Regions from separate parts of the Homo sapiens genome. Here region 1 is linked to region 2. The links come from fine-mapping of genetic effects on gene expression. Tissue or cell type: whole blood. Region 2 holds a variant in brackets; the other region holds the start of a gene. All regions are shown on one strand. Distances are between the middles of the regions.

Region 1 (9,953 bases), 24 kb after region 2:
GCTACATAGGAAATCAAATATAACTCAGAAATTTAAAAATTATCATTTAAAGCTTACTATGTTAAACCAAAGATTATATATTACCAAATAAATAACTAATGAATGGAAAGAAAGATCTGAGGAATCTTCAGAAGCCTGTGCAGAGAGATGAAGAGACAGAACATGCAGAGGAAGGGCTTACTGACAAGGAGTGTGGACTGTGAAGGACCAACCATATCTATTAGATGTTCAAGACATGATAAATGAGGACTAATGAAAGTTATGAACCACAGCAGGTTAAGTAACATGAAATCCTCTACTGGACACAACACAGTATAACTAAAAGAAGACCAGTCGGGTGCGGTGGCTCACGCCTGTAATCCAGCACTTTGGGAGGCTGAGGCGGGCGGATCACCTGAAGTCAGGAGTTCGAGAACAGCCTGGCCAACATGGCGAAACCCCATCTCTACTAAAAACACACAAAAAAATTAGCTGGGCATGGTGGCACGTGCCTGTAGTCCCAGCTACTCAGGAGGCTGAGGCACCAGAATCGCTTGAACCCGGGAGGCAGAGGTTGCAGTGAGCCGAGATCACACCACTACACTCCAGCCTAGGCAACAGAGCAAGATTCCATCTCAAAAAAAAAAAAAAAAAAAAAAAAAGACCAAGTAGAAAGGCCAAGATCTTAGAAATTCTCAAAGACAAAAGCATTGCCTACAAAGGAATGAGTTATCAGGTTGTCTGGAACTTTGCAACAGCAACAACAGAAGCCAGAAGACCAATGGAATAATATGTTCAAGTGCTGAGAAGGAATAACCGTCAACTTACAACTACACTATGATTCAAGGATATGGGCAAAATAAACACTTTCACACAAAAACAGAGAGCATTTTCCACTTGAAGACCTTTGCTAAAAGAATTAACAATATACTTCAGAAGGAATTGAACCAAGAAAGAAGCAGTGAGATGTACAATATGAGATAAATTTCAACAAATATCTAATATGTAAAAAAAGACTACTTGGGGAGTATAAAAACATAGTGGAACAAGGGTACTGGTCATAATAGTAGATGAGATGGGCAGAGTTCGGGCATTTGGGCATTTTAGGGCAAAGGGTGGCAATATTAATTAACTCTAGAATTTATTAAATCGAGTATGCTTATGAAAAATTATAAAAAGTTAATCACATAAGAAGAGAAATAGTATGCATGACTTCCAAACCAGTAGAGAGAACACCACAGAATATATATTTCTATTTTTATTTTATTTTTTGAGACCAAGTCTGGCTCTGTTGCCCAGGCTGGAGTGCAGTGGTACAATCTCGGCTCACTGCAACCTCCGCCTCCTGGGTTCAAGTGATTCTCATGCCTCAGCCTCCTGAGTAGCTGGGATTACAGGCACGCACCACCACACCCAGCTAAATTTATTTATTTATTTATTTATAGTAGAGATGGGTTTTACTATGTTGTTCAGGCTAGTTTCAAACTCCTGACCTCATGTGACCCACCCGCCTCGGCCTCCCAAAGTGCTGGGATTACAGGCATAAGCCACCATGCCCGGGCTAAAATATTTTTATTAATGGTCAATAAAAAGATGCAAGAAAGGAAGAGGCAGAGAAAAATCTGGTTAAGCATAAAGCGTAAAACAAAATGACCAAAATAAATCCTAATGTAGCAGAATTCACAAAGTAATAAAATTAAACCCTCAGTTAGCAAGATAGATTGTCAGTCATACTGGATAGAAGAAAATCTAACAATATACTTTAAAAAGGACACAATAGAATGTAAGGAAAAAGAAATGTTGAATGTAAAAGTATTGAAAACGCCAGCAAGAAATTAACCCAGAGAAAAGAAGAGGCAGAGGATGGTAATATTAAGAGTAAACAGGCTGGGCATGATGGTTCACGCCTGTAATCCCAGCACTTTGGGAGGCTGAGGTGGGCGGATCATGAGGTTAGGAGTTCGAGATCAGCCTACCAACATGGTGAAATCCCATCTCTACTAAAAATACAAGAATTAGCCAGGCATGGTGACGGGTGCCTGTAATTCCAGCTACTTGGGAGGCTGAGGCAGAGAATTGCTTAACCTGGGAGGTGGAGGTTGCAGTGAGCCGAGATCCCGCCACTGCACTCCAGCCTGGGCGACAGAGCGAGACTCCGTCTCAAAAAAAAAAAAAAAAAAAAAAAAGTCAAATAAATGAAGAGAAAAAGGAACAATTCATTGGAAAAACATAACTTCCAGACACTAAAACATAGCATCAAATTATACCAAGCCAAAAAAATGATAAAATTTCAGAGATAAACAGACAATTCTGTAGTCATGGGAGAGAATTTAACACATCTCTTTCAATAATTGATAGTTCATGATTACAGAAGGGATATAGAAGATCTGAGCAACACCATGAGCAAAATCAAAAAGATCTTTCTTTCCGAGTACATGCCACTCTTACCAAAAGATCACATATGAGGCTACAAAGCAATCCTTGATATTGCAACAAAGAATCATACAGACTGTTCTTGAGCAACCTCAACTGTTAGACACCAGTAGCAAAATGAAAAGCAAGCCATATATTGGGAAATTTTTTTAAAAAAACCCTCTAAATAATTCATAATTCAACAAGTGACTTAATGGAGAGTCTAAGAACACATTGTTAACATTAATAAGAAAGGAAATTTCTACTCACTGGCTATGGACACCTAGAAAAATAGAGTTTAAAAAATATATATGTGAAAGTAGCAACACAATGTGAAGGTATCCAGGAAGAAATCTATCAAAAGATGTGAAAAACCTATATATATATAATTTTAAAAATTCTTGAAGACCTAAATAAATGGAAAGATACACAATATGGGATGAATTTGTAGAACTGACTTCTAAAGATGTTGATTTTAGGAGATTTATAAATTGAATATATTCCTACTAAAATTCAAATCAAGTTTTTTGAGGTTCACAAATTGATATAATATGTATAAGGTAGAACAAAGAACCAAGAATGCCAGAACATTTTTTTTTTTTTTGGATACACAGTCTTGCTCTGTCACCCAGTCTGGAGTGCAGTGGCACAATCTCGGCTCACTGCAGCGTGGACCTCCTGGGCTTAAGCGATCCTCCTGCCTCAGCCTCCTGAGTAGCTGGGACCACAGGTGCAAGCCACCATGCCCGGCTATTTTCTGTATTTGTTATTTTTTTGCATTTTTAGTAAAGACCAGGTTCACCATGTTGCCCAGGCCAGTCTTGAACTCCTAATCTCAAGTGATCCGTCCACCTGGGCCTTCCAAAGTGCTGGGATTACAGGCGTGAGCCACTGCACCCAGCCACCAGAACGATTTTGAAGACGAAGTTCAACATGTGAGGACTCACTTCCACCACAGCAAGACTTAATTAAATTATAGTAATAAGAAAGTGTGATATTAGCACAAAGAGAGGCAGAATAGAGTCTAGAAACAGGCCCACTCATATGTAGAAATTTGTATAAAGCACAGATGTCATTTTAAATCAGTAGGGAAAGAAGGACTTTTAGCAAGCAGCATTGGAAAAAATGGTTATCCATATGGAAAAAATAAGTTAGATCACGACATCAAACCATATTTAAATGGATTAAAGACCAACATATGAAAAAGCATGACTTTAAAAGTTTTGGAAGGAAATGAAGGAGAATGTTTTTATGATCTCAGGTCAGGAAAAGATTTCTTAAACACAATACCAGAAGCACAAATCATAAACCAAAAGATCAGTAAATTTGACCACATGAAAATATTTTTTAAAAACTCTTTGGTAAATTAAAGATATCATAAACAAAATGGAAAATACAAATCTTAAACTTGGAGAAGAGATTTGGCATGGATATAACCAAGAAAGGATTTGGCCCAGATTTTATAAACAGCGCTCATGGAAAAGGCCAAAGGATATGAATGACAATGCTCAGAAATATCCAATGTTCTTGAAGCATATGTTATCAATGTAACATAAATTAAGCAAAAAGGATCTAATATTTCACACTCATTAGATAGGCAGAAATTTAAAAAGATCTGGCTGGGCACGTGGCTCACACCTGTAATCCCAGTACCTTGGGAGGCCAAGGTAGGAGGATCTCTTGAGCCCAGGAATTTGAGACCAGCCTGAGCAACATAGTGAGACCCTATCTTTAAAGAAAAAAATCTGATCATGCTAAGACCTGCTGAGGGGAGTGTAAATGGGCATGTGCATTTTGGATAATAAGACGGCAATATTTAACAATGCAGTGTAATTACTGAGCTAGAGTGTTGGAAGACTTTCAGCTCCCCTGCAACATTGTTTATAATCAGGAAAAACTGAAAAGAAGCATAAATGGCTAGGTATGAGATCTGGCAGAGGACACATAGTGGGTCTCAAAAGACCATCCTGGCTAACACGGTGAAACCCCGTCTAAAAATACACACACAAAAAAATTAGTCGGGCGTGGTGGCGGGCTCCTGTAGTCCCAGCTACTCGGGAGGCTGAGGCAGGAGAATGGCGTGAACCCGGGAGGCGGAGCTTGCAGTAAGCTCAGATCACGGCCACTGCACTCCAGCCTGGGAGACAGATCGAGACTCCGTCTCAAAAAAAAAAAAAAAAAAAAAAAAAGAGGGTCTCGAAAATGTTAGTACTGTTTTATTTCTCAAGAATAAATTGTATACAGATGTGTTCAATTCCATATTTTCTATACTTATTTTGTATGCTTAACATTTTCACAATTAAAAAATTAATTTGGTGAGGCTGCTGGAGAAAAGGTACTCACACAAGCTGGCGGGACTGTCAATTGATATAACTACTTCCAAGAGCAGATTAGAACTGGTGGTATAGTGATGCCACTCTTTTTAACCTCTTGGATGGACAAAGATAGAAAGGTTGGATAACAGTTTGTGTTGGCAAACAGGCACTCTCTTTGCAGATGGGAATATAGATTGAAGACACCTCCTTGCAGGTAATTTTTTGGCAATATTTGACAAAATTGGAAACTCCCCTTCACCTAGCACAATTTCCTTGAGGTATTTATTCTAAGAAAATAAGCAATTTTAGAGCAAAGATTTATCTACACTGAAGTTTCCCATAGCAATCACAGTATTGTTTCTAATATTAGTAATACAAAAAGAAACAACCTGTATGTCTAACACTAATCGATTCTAATTTATGGTGCAACTGAACAATGGACCAAAATGATGCTGTTGGAAGTTTTTAATGATGTGGAACCGCTTGCAAATTATTAAGCTAAAAGAAAGTAGGTTACAAGATAGCAGGAAGAATAAACCATTAAAAATACCAATCTGTGCACTGACAAATGTTATAAATATTTTACGTTATGTTATGTTATAAACATTTTATAATATAAAAAAATGTTAACTGAAGTTACTTCCTGGATGAATTACAGGTGATTTCATTGTCTTCTAGAATTTTCTTTTCCAAAAATGTTGTGTATGCGTGTAATTATTATTTTAATAGGAGACACTCTCCTTTGGTGATATAATTTAAACAGGACGGTACTGACTGATAACCTCCCGGGGAAGGCAGGGAGCCAAGTACTACAGACTTGTATGTTTCCATGGAAATCTAACGCGCCTTTGATTATCACAGATTCTGGAGAAGAGTGAGGACTTGGGTTCACCAGTGCGTTCCCAAGGACAGGCTGGGCTTCTGAGGAAGTTGCCCACCCTCTCGGAATCTGGTTTGGCCTCCGTAAAATGGGCAGATCCCGCTCGGATGGCCCGGTTCCCGGCTTCCTTTTGCGGGTCAACGGCAGCGTCACGCGCGCGAGCGCGGTCTGCAAAGCCCCCAGCGCTGGGCGTCACGCGGGGATTGCTGTCGCCGCTGCCAGCCGCAGCAGCGACGCGAACTCGGGGCGCCCGGCCCGGGCGCGCGGGGGCGGGGACGCGCACGCGGCGAGGGCGGCGGGTGCGACGGGGGCGGGGACGGGGGCGGGGACGGGGGCGAAGGGGGCGGGGACGGGGGCGCCCCGGCCTAAGCGGGACTAGGAGGGCGCGCCACCCGCTTCCGCTGCCCGCCGGGGAATCCCCCGGGCTGGCGCGCAGGGAAGTTCCCGAACGCGCGGGCATAAAAGGGCAGCCGGCGCCCGCGCGCCACAGCTCTGCAGCTCGTGGCAGCGGCGCAGCGCTCCAGCCATGTCGCGCGGCCTCCAGCTTCTGCTCCTGAGCTGCGGTAGGGCTCGCGAGCGCCTGTCTCGCCTGTCGCCCCCCGCCCCTCCACGACACCCCCTCCCGTCGGTCGCTTGCTCACGACGCGCTCTCTCTTTCTTGTAGCCTACAGCCTGGCTCCCGCGACGCCGGAGGTGAAGGTGGCTTGCTCCGAAGATGTGGACTTGCCCTGCACCGCCCCCTGGGATCCGCAGGTTCCCTACACGGTCTCCTGGGTCAAGGTAGGTGCTGCGATACCCACGGGCTGGGGTTTGGTGGGCTCATTTGAAGACAGCAGGAACCATCTCCCCTAGGCTGGCGACCCTCTGTGGCTGCCAGGTGGGGGCGAGGGGCGTCTCCCGCAGCTGAACTTGGAGTACCCAGCCTCCCGTCGCGCCTCCCCCACCCCATCCGCATCCAGGTACAGGGCCGAATTAGGTTTTGCTCTCCGCAGACCTCAATCCCCTTCCTGTCACTGAAGGTGGCCTGAGATGAATGATCCACTTAAGATGTTTTGGAAGGGCAGAGACTCTCATTTGGATTAATTCTGGAGGCCACCTGTGGTTGTGGGCCAGCAGGTCAGGAAGAAAGCAACAGGGACCTAGATTTGGGCATTGGACAGGGGGAATGTCTCCAGACTTCTGATTTCTTGTGTTTTGTGACTGTGATGCCCATGATACATGGGAGGGGGAGGGGGCAATTTGAAAGGAAAGGCTAAGACACAGAAGTGACTTAGGCCATTTCATCCATGGTAGTTATCAGTGGTCATCTCCTTTGTGGGATACCCTTGGCTTCCTCCCCTAGCCCTCCTCCTCCTTCCTCTGGCAGCCTTGAGAGCATCAGGTGGATGCATGAGCCGGAGCCCGCATGTGTAAGAACAGGCCTTGCTGCTCCTACTGTAAGTGGACTGAGTGACAAGGAGGCTTTTTCAAGGTTTCCTCTTGACTGAAACATTCTCAGATTCTAAGATGGCAATGATGGTGTCATTCCAAAGCCAAGCAGCTACTGTTTGATATCACTGGTCCTTCTTTAAGTCAGGCCACTGCTACCACAGCACCTCCATTTTAACCCAAATGAATATGATATTACAACCTTACTCTGTAGCTCTCACTGATTTGCTGTCTTACCACGGGGGCAAATCTCTGCACTTGTAGCTTTCCCCAAAATGCAGGGCGTTCTTCTGCCCACCATAAAAGATACTATAAGAAACTGTACGTCTTTGGCCACTTAACAGTACAAGGCATCATTGCGGTGATCTCTTTGTGTGTGTGTCTCCTAACTGGATGGTCAGTTCCCTGGGGGGCAGTGGCTGTATCCATACTTCTGTGTATTCTTCACGGCACCTAATTTTTGCCCTATAAATTGCAAAGGTGCTCTGTGAATTCAGCCCAGCACTTCATGAGTTATGCATGACGGGGATGGTGCTGCTGCCTCAGAGCATTGTATTGTGTATAAAAGTAAGGTGTTAAATATTCCTACTTCATTGGTACCTTACTTACTGTGGGATCAGAGAACACAACAATTCCGAAATTGTTCTCATAGTCAAAACAATAGTATTTTTAAAAATATTGTAAAAACAATTTTTGAATGCTCACCACGTGCCAAGCTCCAAGGTAAATATTTACATACATTATCCATTTCCATCCATCGGAAGAATGGACTTAGGGATTAGTACTGTTACTATTCCTACTTTACAGGTGAGGAAACTGAGCCTTAGGGAGGGAAATAACTTGTCCACTTTTGCACAGCTAGCTAAATGGTGGAGTTGGGATTTGAACGAAGCAGTCTGATTCCAAATCCTGAGTTGTTAGAGGTCTATCTTGATCTCTGTTTTCTCCCTTAATAACTTAAGATAAAGAAAATCAAAGTGCCCCTGGGCTAACCAGGCAGGGACTTAGTTATCTCAAAGAACGGGGAAAAACATGAAACCACTATCCCTTCCAGAGAGTAACTATTTAATAAAGAAAACATTATTAATACCCCCAGGGGAGTAATTAAAAAGTACTCATGAAACAAGTAGATGAAATTTCAGGCTGTGAAGTTCAAACAGTTCTGGAGTGAAAGCTTCTTGCACAGGGTCATTTGGAATGGTCCACTAAACCATAGCAATTAACCTTGGACTTCTCCTTGGATGTCAGCTGGTGACGTAACTCGGTAACGCATGAGCTTGTTTATTGGACAGAATTCTTGCGAGATTTACCCCCAAGGTCTTTGAAAGCTCTGTCAAGAAAAAAAGGGACAGCAGTCTCTAGGCGTTCTTTTTTTCCTGTTGATCCATGGAATAGTGCCAATGAAAAGTCATACCGTAGTTATTTTTTGAGAAGTAAATGGTGATTGAGATTCGTGGGTAGGAGAGTTATGCTATACCAATAAACGAATCAGGTGCCTCGAAAGTGACATATATTGTTCCTTTAAGCATTTTTTTTAAAACAGCTCTCAGCATGTTCTGTAGATACTTATTATTTTCCAGCCCAATAATTATACTTTTTCATTGATTATGCTTATACAACAAAAATGGATAGAGTGTTCTGGAGACAAGGCCAGTGGTGAAATGCCAAAATACTTCATTTTACAGAATGTTAAGCATCTGGTCATTTTTCTATAAGTTTCTTGTAAAATGTTTCATCAAAGTGGAGGGGTAGCCACAAAGGGAGGAATTTCATTTTGGTAACCAGAACCAGCTTATCCCATCCTACTCACTTCATCATCACTACCCTGGCTTTGTAAAACCTGTTTTGCCAGCTTAGGAGGGGGCTTCATACTGGGCAAGGAAAGCAGAGTCCCTTGCAGTGGGTTTTCACCATCCACCAGATTGAAGCACATTCTGCAGGCTGTCTGCATATCATAAGTATGGTTATAATGACTCACAATTTAAAATTCTATTCACCACTCAATCCTCCGGCACCATGTAGCATCTTGCCTTTGTCCATTTGGCACTGATACTTGTAATTAACAAAAGGACCCATGTAAACCATGTGTTTTTTATCATATGCCTTTGACCAGAAAACTCAAAACAGACAGCATCCAATCTGTTTGCAACATTAGGGTTGGGAAGGAAGAGTGTTCATTCTGTTCTCTCTGTTTCAAAGATGCAGTGAGATGGGCTAGAGGGGACTTAATAGACACATGTGCAAGAGGCTAAAGGTGAAGCCAAAAGTGGACAGAGATATCCCAATTCCTGTTGGCCCAGCTCTTCTCTTCTATGGACCATGTCCTCTTAACTGGGATCCAACAAAGGGTCCTCTTCTCATCCCTTCCTCCCTTATACTTTTTAAGGCATAATGGGTGATTGAGAAGAAATAGAAAAGTTAATACATTATATTCATTAGGATAGTAGCTCAATTTAGCTTTATGTTTATTTTTTGAGACAGAGTGTCACCCTGTTTCCCAAGCTGGAGTACAGTGGCATGAAGATGGCTCACTGCAGCCTCGACTTCCTGGGCTCGAGTAATCCTCCCACCTCAGCCTCCCAAGTAGCTGAGACTACAAGGGCGTACCACCACACCTGGCTAATTTTTATGTTTTTAATTTTTTGTAGGGACAAGATTTCAATACATTGCCCAGGCTGGTCTCCAACTCCTGAGCTCAAGCCATCCTCCCACTTCAGCCTCCCAAAGTGCTAGGATTACAGGCATGAGCCAATCGATTTATCTTTTAAAGTTGTAATAGACTGGGTGTGGTGGCTGAGGCTTATGCCTGTAATCCCAGCATTTTGGGAGGCGAAGATGGGAGGATCACTTGAGCCCAGGAGTTTGAGGCCAGCCTGGGCAATGCAGTGAGACCTGTCTCTACCAAAAAAAAAAAAAAAAAAAAAAAAAGTTGTAATAGA
Region 2 (9,953 bases):
AAGTTTTACTTCAGCCATTACAAGGTTAGGAAAAACCACGGAGCAATTTATAACTAACCCGACTGCTCAGGGAGAGACCTCTATATCAGCTGTCCCCTCCTGAGCATACTTAACCCATCTCAAATGACACATGGAGAAAACATCAGTTCTTTGACAAATACCTACACAAGAACAATTTAAATTGCAAACCCAAATCAATATCAAACACACATCCTGCTGCATTTTAAGTAGAAATAGGGGAGATAGCAATGTAGAATTCATTGCAAATCATAAAAGTTTATTTACCAAGCTTAATGCTCAGAAGGGAATTAAACTCCTTAAAACTGAGAGAGTGTTATATAATGCTGAGAATTAAGGGAGAAGTAGCAAGTCTGAGTTAAGAAACCATGTTTTCCTGAACCCATCTTAACCTTCAGGGTCTCCAAGGTTCACAAGCATCTCTAGAACTCTCTGTTTACTCTCCCACTTTCTTCTTTATTAGCAATGCTGCTATTCCATCTTTAGGACCACTGCCAGACCAAAACTTCCTGAAAAGGTAATTTCCCTTCATCTCTTAAAGCTTTCTTGTCCTTGTTTTCCCAATCCATCTTCCTTTTCTTCTCTTTCTTTACTTCAATGTGCTGAAGGCACTTTTAGCTGGTGGTATATTAGGCAAATTTTGTTGCAGTAACAACCCCAAATTTTAATGATTTATGAAAATGAATCATTTCTCAGTCCTGGGACTGTAGGTCAGCTGCGCCTCAGCTGTGTCTCACCTAAACTTTTTGGCTTCCTCTAGACTTGATGGGGTTTGGTTGTAAGCTTCAGGTCAGATTCAAGTCTGCTTTGTGTGTTTTTCATTCTGAGACCCAGGCTGAAGAAGCAGTGGCCGCCTGGGGCATCCTTTTCTTATGGAGAGTAGCAGGAGTGCCAGACAGGAAGCGAAAAGACATAATGCCTCTGAGTCTCTCTTTGTGCTGGCATGCCACCATTGTGCCACACCCCATTCTTCAGTCAACGCACATCCTATGGCCCAGCCCAAGGTCAAGGGATGGGGAGATGTACTCCATTCAGGAGGGTGGACCAGGAACATGAAGACTGACTGAAGAATAATATAATCTACAATAGATGGGAGAAGGTGGAGTACAGTGATCCCTCAATCACTCATATAAAGAAACATAAAATAGTTCTCCAACATTTATTATGCTAGGGATGCTCTGCCCTTATTTCAGCACTCAAGGTTGCCTCAACTTCTCTGGAAAGAGAAGGTGGACAGAAATATAACTGGTCAATAGTCATCATAATAATGCTTGGAATTTATTGTGCAACTGCCACGTGCACAGTTACTTTACATATATTCATGTAATGAGTACCCATATTGGACTGCAACAAATGTAACTTTCTATGACTAAACTTAATTTCTATTTCAGTTTCTGTTTAGTGCTCTCATTCCAAAGCGTTTCAGAAATCTAATTTTTTTTTTTTTTTTTTGAGACGGAGTCCCGCTCTGTCACCCAGGCTAGAGTGCAGTGGCTCGGTCTCGGCTCACTGCAAGCTCCGCCTCCTGGGATCACACCATTCTCCTGCCTCAGCCTTCCGAGTAGCTGGAACTACAGGCGCCCGCCACCACGCCCGGCTAATTTTTTGTATTTTTAGTAGGGACGGGGTTTCACCGTGTTAGCCAGGATGGTCTCAGTCTCTTGACCTCGTGATCCGCCCGCCTCGGCCTCCCAAAGTGCTGGGATTACAGGCGTGAGCCACCGCGCCCAGCCCAGAAATCTAATCTTTTTCCCCGCAAGGGTGGAGGTGGTGGGGCGGGGCGTGGCGTGGTTATCACCTGTCGGTGCCGGCGTGGTCCTGTGCGTCCTCTCTCCTGCCTGGCCTCCAGTCATCCATGTGTGTAGTACTACCGCTGCCCCCACCTCATCCTGATGAGGCCCTGTGGATCTGGCTCTCTTCGTCACTCCTTTGCCCTTCTGGGGAGCAGGGACAATATCTGGCTGTGTTGGCCCAGTCCCTTTCTGCCTTGCTATGCCACCTAGCAATTTCTGCTCTATTGCTTCCCACCATGCTGGGCTCAAGGGACTTTGAGGTCTTATGGTCTTCGAAGGTTTCACACATGTTCTTGGGTCTTTAAAGCTATTGGGGTTCCTATCAGTCATCCTTTTCTCAGTTGGCTTGGCCCAAGATGGGGTGGAGAGGAGCAGGAGGCAGCGCTTTTTCTGGAACCATATTGCAATGATTAACTCTCTTGATTCTTATCAGTCTCTTCTCTCAATCCGTGGAACTGTTTCTGGGTTCAACTGGGGTGATTTGGCTTTATGGAGTGTTCCCAAATGTGTGGTTTATGAGATAATTTTATGTCCTGATACCTTCATATTTATCGCAGGTGAGAAAGTTCATTTTGAGGCAGATGAAGTCACTCTCCAACCTTGACTTAGTGAAGAAGTGGAAAAAGGAGAATTTGTAGGATTCAAAAGCTGAAACTTTCTCCTCTAGGCTAAACTGGCTCTACAAAAAAAGCAAGTTTTAAGCAGAAAAGGGCAAAATAGGGATAGTTTTAGTTCGAGCTGCTATAACAGAAATACTAGAGACTGGGTGGCTTATAAATGACATCGTTGCTCACAGTTCTGGAGGCTGGGAAGTCCAAGATCAAGGTGCTGGCAAATTCAGTACCCGGTGAGGACCTTCTTCCAGGTTTATAGATGGCATCCTCTCACTATGTCCTCACATGGTAGAAGCAGCAAGAGTGTGCTCTCTGGCCTCTTTTAGAAGGGTATTGATCTCATTCATGAGGGCTTCCCCTTCATGACCTAATCGCTTCCCAAAGGCCCCACCTCCTAATACATATTGATACATGAATTTGGTGGCAAGGGGAGAGACACAAACTTTCAGTCCCTAACAGGGATCTTCTGGCATCTCAACCCTAGTAGGAAGATTGCAGTAACTTGTGTGGGACCAAATCGAGAATTTCTAACAGGATCTTCTGTTGGGTGTTGGGGAGATGGCCTCAGTTTGGGGGGCAAAGTGGAGATTGAGCATATTCAGCTCTTGTTTTTAAGACTACAGAACACATTCCAGATAGAGAGAGTTTGAGACAAAATCCACACCCACCCCGCTCCCAAAACTGGATCCACAGAGGTCCAACACAGTGGTGAGAGGCTACGCTGAACTCACTGACTGTGCAGCCTTGGAGTTTGGGAAACAGACTTAGGTTTCTGTGTGCCTAGAAAGCATGTATAAACAGTACGACCCCTCTCAGTTTCTGAAAAGATCTGATACATGTCAAACACCCATTCCATCATCTCTGGTCCTGCCTTAAGTAGTGCTTCTTCAATTTCAAGAGATGTTACTCCATAGCCGAGCATTGACTGGGTAATAAACTTTTGTGACTTGTAATAAAAGGTGTGTTCACACACACACACATGCAGGCGCACACACACGTTGTCTACATAAATGATTGACTTGGGCAAGGCATCTCATTCTCTTTATTTTCTGTTGGAACCACATAATTTTCTTTTCTCTCACTCTTGGTTTCTCTCTCATGTGTCATGCATTGTGGTGTTATAACTAAGTACTATTCTTGCTATTATCACCAAGGAATAGGGAATAGAAAATCAGGCTTTTTTTTTTTTTTGGTATAACTGTTCTCCTTTTTTCAGCCTCAATGCATTTTGAAAGAAGTTGGAAGTTAGAACACTTTCTGAAGTATGACTGTTTGCTTGTTACTTAGCTTGTCTGATCCTTGTAAAATAGGAATAATGGGAATATTGACTGGGGAGAAAAAGGGGAGATGCAAATCTGCACACGTGACATCATCCTATTTATGTTAAAATATATACATAGAGACTTACTAGCATAAAATATGCCAAGATATTCATGGTGGTTATCTCTGGGCTGTGAGATGATGGACAAATCTGAATTTCTTCCTTATATCACCCAGTTTGATTGCTCTTTTCACTAAATTTGTTCCCAAATGACTTTTTCTGTTTCCAAAATCGTATTCATTCCCAAAGGACAAAGAGTTGCTGCCTTTAATAATATATTTTTTTAAATGGCTTTGAAGGAAATCATAAAAAGATTTTCAGCACAGTTTTGACCACTGGCAATTCTTTGGAATAAATGAATAAGGTGGCTGATTTGAAGGAACAAGATTCACTTTGACGTATAATTTCTGGAATATTGCAAAATCAGTTGTGGTGCTTTGATAGCTATGCCCATACTTGGAAGGAAAGCAGGCTTATCCCATTGTTCTTTTGGTGTTTTTTTGAACTCCAGATCAATATAACATGCGATTGTAGTAATCTGACCAGTCATCTGGAAAGTTCCAGTATATGAAAAGTAGATTTGTATTTAAAAAAAAAAAAACACCCTTTCATTGAATGCTTTAATATAAAACAAACCTTCCTGACTTGTTTTATAAAAAGAGGAACTATACTACATTTGAAACTAAACTGTGGGAAAAAAAATGTGGTTCTGAAGAATATTCTCTGGTCTTAAATAGAGAATATGAAAATCAAATATGATCAGCTGTCATACACAAAAGTGTATTTTATTAATAAAAATGAAACAGAGCACTGTAAAATAGGAAGTAAACATTAGCTTTACACAAGGTTTTGCTTCATAGTCCTTTTAAACTTAATCTTCGCCAAAGGCTGAGAAGCGATTCACAGGCCTTTTAAATAGGTGGCTTCACTATCTCTCACTTATTTCTATTGATGTATTTTGGCTGGGAAAGAGAAATGCTTATATTCAATATCTATGGAATTGAGAATTTGAATATTATCTTTATCAAAAAAGATAAGGCATATGACATTGAGTATTAATAGATCAGAAATATTTATTTGATTGACAACTCAGTTACTTTTGCTTCTCCAATGGACACTCCATAAATATTCGAATGCGTCTTATGTCTACTGTGTGCATAGCCTTATGCTAATTCCATGAATGCAATGGTGATGTGTTTCCAGCTAACATCTGGAAGCCTTATTCTGCCAAAGATGAGAGATCACGGTACAGAATGTTCCTAATAAGAGTATTTTATTATCCATCCTGTACTCGCATGGTCCCTGTTCTCAATGACTTTATAGTCTTGTTGATAAGGTTTCAAACATGCAAGTATTGAGTAATATGTCAGACTGACTTCTAGAAAACGTTTTATTGACTATGATCAGGGGCCCAAATATAGGACACCAAAAAGAAGGATTTAGGGTGGACAAGTTGTAGAGAAGCTAAAGGAACCAAGGAAGGTGTCACAAAAGAGGTGGTTTGAGGAGTGTGTGATGCAAGGATAGGGTAATAATTCATCTCTAGTCTAAATCAGACCTTATTTTGGCAATTTTATTAGTCATCAACTACCGCAATAATGTATAACAAATAATGCCCCAAGTCTCACTGGCTGACGCCACAAACATTCATTTTTTTATTCACAGGTCTGTGGATTGGCAGGGACTCAGCTGATCTTGGCTGGGCTCCACTGGGCATGGCTCCAGGCTCCAGGTCTACTTTGGGCCTGCTTTATATATTTTGTTCTGGAACTGGCACCACCTGGGGCATAGTCTTCTTACGGTGATGGCGGAAATACAACAGGCCAAGTCAAATCATGCAAGCACATTTAAAGCCTCTTTTACATCATTTCCACTAGCGTCTGTTATTCAAGGCAAAGCCTGTGGCTGAGCCAAGCTTCCATGGGGTGAGGAAAAACACTGCACTCATTCTAGTGAGAGCCACTGCAAAGTCACATGGCAAAGGTCACGGGTGTAGAATTCTGTAACAGAGAGAGAGTGAAGAATGGGAAACAAAAATTCAATGTACCCCAGTCACATTTTTGAAAAAAATAGTGGAAAAATTGCAAACAGTATAGATTAAAAAAACAACAACAACAAAACCTGCACAGTACAGGAACCAAGTGAAGAATGTAGGTGGAGATAATTGTGTTTAGCTGGCCTGAAATGAAAAGACTAATAGTCACTTCCACCACTATCTTTGAGTTTGCAAGTTTGTGAGGGGCCTAATGCTGACTAGTGGACCCTCCTGGCTGAAAAAAAAAAGACAGTAGACTGGAGTTAAATGAGAACTCAAGTTGCGAGAAAAATCTTCCCTCTTTGGGAGATAAAGCCCTGGCAGCAAGAACTGAAGGAGGTAGAGTACTATTTCTGCATCTTCAGGGAGAGCTGCAAGGAGAGGGAGCTGTGTCTTGTCTCACTGAGGTGCCTGGACAAGATGAACATTTCAGGTCTTTTTCAGTTCTAGGTTTCTATGATGTCAGTGCTACTTCCCTTTCCAAAACCCCACAGTG[G/A]CCAGGCATCACAGTGCCACAAGTGAAAAGACCCATGACTGCCTTTATAAGTAAGTTCTTCTTTTGGTTTCTCTGGCAGGAGGCAGATGGAGGAGGAGAGAAAGGCCAGAGGTCTGTTTTGGGGTTGTTGTCTCTGGTTGTCTAAGTCATGCCAAGACACCACCCCTTGGAGCCTGGTTCCTGACATCCGGCAGCATGGCATACTTGAAGGGCATGATGTGGGGATAACAACAGAGCCCTGGCTGAGTCCGGTGGCTCACGCCTGTAATCCCAGCACTTTGGGAGGCCGAGGCAGGCGGATCACCTGAGGTCAGGAGTTTGAGACCAGCCTGGTCCACGTGACAAAACCCTGTCTCTACTGAAAATACAAAAAAAGTTTGCCGGGCATGGTGGCACACACACACACACGCACGCACACACACACACACATGCCCCCATAAGCATCCCAGTATTTGGAAGCAATCAGTTGATTTTTTTTCTTTTTAGAATTCAGTTTGGTGTTATAGGGACACTGCTAGCCTCAGGCAGTGCCGCAAGAGCAGATCAAGGCTCTGATTAAAAAATTCCTCAGTTGCTCCCAGCTGGAGATGTCTGCTTACAAAGCCCTTACAAAGAAATGTTTTTCAATAGGCAACATTCTCTGGTCTGGCCCCACCAAGGAAGTACAGCAGGAAATCTCACAGGCATCCCGATTGCCATTGCCCTCCTGCTCCCAGACACACACTTGGCCCCAACTGGCCTCTGACATGCTCCATGGGGAGCAAAATGGACTTGCTCCATTTTATCCATTGCTCTGGGCTCCACGGTGTTAAGCATGATGGCTTGGAAACTCTATATACCCAGTAAATGAATGCTTGTTGAATAACTTAATGAACACACCCCATGTCAGCCTATCTCCTCAATGCACATCCGCCAGCCACCTCAGCTCAGGCACCTCGCTGATTTTCAAAACATGGGCTAAAAGCTACCATAGGGCATCTAATTATACCTTCTGGTGTAGAAGGTGTTCTCTCATAGGAGGCCTTAGCCAAGTTTGAGAACAAGGACTTTGTATGGAATGAGCTGCATAATGGACAGCACTGGCTGGACCAGCCATTGGGGGTGTCTCTGGCTGAAATTTAACAAAGTTTCCATAGACCTTTTACCAGATTTACTGAGAATGTTGATTTCCTCTATTAAAGCTTAAACGTCAATTCAGGGGAATTTCCCCATAAATGTTGTGAGACTAAACGTGGCTTCTTGTGGGTTCCACATGGGAGCTCACCAGGATGTTGCCCAGCCTTTGTAAAGGTCTGCCTGGTTTCCTGTACCTAGTGGTCAACGTCAGCAGCTGTACCTGTGCCCAGCATTGGGAGGCTCGTCCTCGGCCCTCACCCGGCCATAGGCAGTCAACATCACTAGTTCTCCCCTGCTTAGCACCCAGTGGCTGCCTTTTTGGCCTCTAAACTTGCTTCCCTGTGTTCTTGATCCCTGAAGCTCACCACTGGTCCACCTGCCAATTACTCACTTTAATCTTATCAGAGTAGATACCCAGGTTTTACATTTCACCCAACAGAACTTGAGTCCTAATTCTCATTTCCTTCCTTTCATCCATGAGCTTTACATGGGAATTTGCATTTACAGTTATGCCTGTGAATTCAGAGGCCTCCCCTGGACCAGGCGGTCATGTGCTGAGTGAGGCGGGTGACCAGCTTGGAAGCCAGGGCGGGAAGTTCGCATGGCCCTCTGGGTGAATCCTTTGCTTCCCTGCTTTGGAAGACAGCTGGCTGCAGAGCAAGAGTTCTCTTGTGTGAGGCCCATGGCAGTGTCGGACCCTAAATGGCCATTGGAACACACCCCCAGGTTTCTAGCTGCACTGGGTAGGGGTGGGTGAAGGAGAACTGAGGGCGCGTCAGCCTCTCCTGCCTGGACAAAAAGGCATGTAGGTCACAGTTCTCCCCAGGTGTTCTCAAGTCTTGCTTGTTTGTTGTCAAGAGAAGGCAGAATTCTGCCTTGAAAAAAACCTCTGTGATGGCCATTTAAACAGCCTGTGGATTGTTTCCAGGCCTGAGCACTGCTGGAGGAGGATGCTGGCTTACAGAGGCCTCTCCAAAGCATCAGTCTTTGGACTCCCAGGAGCACTATTATTAGCCTCCCTTCACATTCAGAAGGCGCCCACCCACAAGAGTGGGTGGATATCAGGGTCTGGGCCCACATCTTCTGACTCCAAGTCTGTGTATCTTGCTACCATGCAGCTGATTTCCCAGTTGCTGAGTTTTCTCTGTGCACATCTTGATGGCTGATACCTGTAATAACAGAAACTTCGTTCAACTCTCATAAACCCTGAGTCTGGAGGTCTGGGACATATTAGGCCATACGAGGGGGCTTAGCTTGCTTTCTGTCTCTTTCTCTTCCACCTGGAACATAAGTTGTCCCCTAGGTGAAGGCCGTCTGCCACACTGACTGTGTAATCTGAACTTGGAGCCAGAGGTTCTGAGTCTTAGCGCCGCCCTTGCTATTATCTTCCAGCATGATTTTTGGGCTTGTGCTTTCACTCTACTGAGACTCAGATTCCACACCAATAATAGAGAGATTTGAACTAATGTATCCATTGAGATGGTTTGAATGCATGTTACAGAAAACCTAACTCAAGCAGGCATAGGCAAGAACTTGAAATAATTAGTTCATGCAATTCATTAAAAAGGGCAGGGGCTTGATCCAGGGGCTTGAACAATATTTCAGGAACTGGTCTGTTCCCCTCTTAGCATTGCTCTCTTCCTTCCATTTCGGCTTCATTTCAAGGCTCCACATGATGCCAAGAGGGCTGCTGGTTACTCCAGGTCTACTACCTCCCAGATGCTAGTGCAAGGAAAAAGAGGAAGATGGCCTCTAACAGTGGCAGCTAAAGGCTATGAAAAATCACTGACTCAGTTGTGTTAAGCGCCCACCCCTAGGCCAGGCCCCATGGCCAGAGAAATGTGGTACTCCGAATGGACAGGACTGTCACATGCCCACCCCACATATGGGTGGGGCCCATGAAACACACATGGGAAAAGGATGTGGGATGCGTGCTTTCCCCCCAAAAAAGCAGGGCATGGTTGCCCAAAGAATGGCAAATAGGTACTGGGTGTTAAGCTTCATTACTGATTTAATTTTATTGTTTGCCAGGTAGAATGTGAACATGCTTTCAAAAGTCAAAACAATATAGAAAAGCATGCTCAGGCTGGGCCCAGTGGCTCATGCCTGTAATCCCAGCACTTTGGGAGGCCGAGGCAGGCAGATCACCTGAGGTCAGGAGTTCGAGACTAGCCTGGCCAACATGGTGAAACCTCATCTCTACTAAAAGTACAAAAATTAGCTGGGTGTGGTGGCCAGTGCCTGTAATCCCGGCTACTCGGGAGGCTGAGGCAGGAGAATTGCTTGAACCTGGGAGGCAGAGGTTGCAGTGAGCCAAGATCTACCACTGCACTCCAGTCTGGGCAATAAAAGTGAAACTCTGTCGAAAGAAAGAAAGAAAGAGAGAGAGAGAGAGAGAGAGAGAGGAAGGAAGGAAGGAAGGAAGGAAGGAAGGAAGGAAGGAAGGAAGGGAGGGAGGGAGGGAGGGAGGGAGGGAGGGAATTAAAAAGAAAAGCGTGCTTTTTCCATCCTATTCCCTCATACTCCTTAGAGGAAAACAACTACAAGATTTTTTGGATTT

The links. PIP is the estimated chance that this variant, and not a neighbour inherited with it, causes the effect. A credible set is the group of variants that fine-mapping cannot tell apart.
Region 1: it holds the start of CD83, and the variant in region 2 is the best candidate, but not a certain one, in a credible set for the expression of CD83 in whole blood (INTERVAL, PIP 0.52).

What each region holds. Positions count from the first base shown.
Region 1 is chr6:14,111,700-14,121,652 of GRCh38, forward strand. CD83 (CD83 molecule) reads left to right here and starts at 6,073. Exons shown (of 5, transcript NM_004233.4): 1 at 6,073-6,149; 2 at 6,251-6,366. The coding sequence starts at 6,113. LOC124901265 (a long non-coding RNA gene) reads left to right here. Exons shown (of 2, transcript XR_007059464.1): 2 at 1-109. RefSeq lists silencers at 5,399-5,693, 5,821-5,940 and cis regulatory regions at 5,436-6,344, 5,684-6,500, 5,684-6,339, 6,505-7,005, 6,576-7,402 and 1 more.
Region 2 is chr6:14,088,048-14,098,000 of GRCh38, forward strand. No RefSeq gene overlaps it. Among named protein-coding and RNA genes, the nearest start is that of CD83, 25 kb to the right of the region's middle. RefSeq lists enhancers at 595-644, 681-1,182, 6,288-6,417, 7,311-7,440 and a cis regulatory region at 7,289-7,789. The variant G/A (reference allele first, on the strand shown) is at 6,278.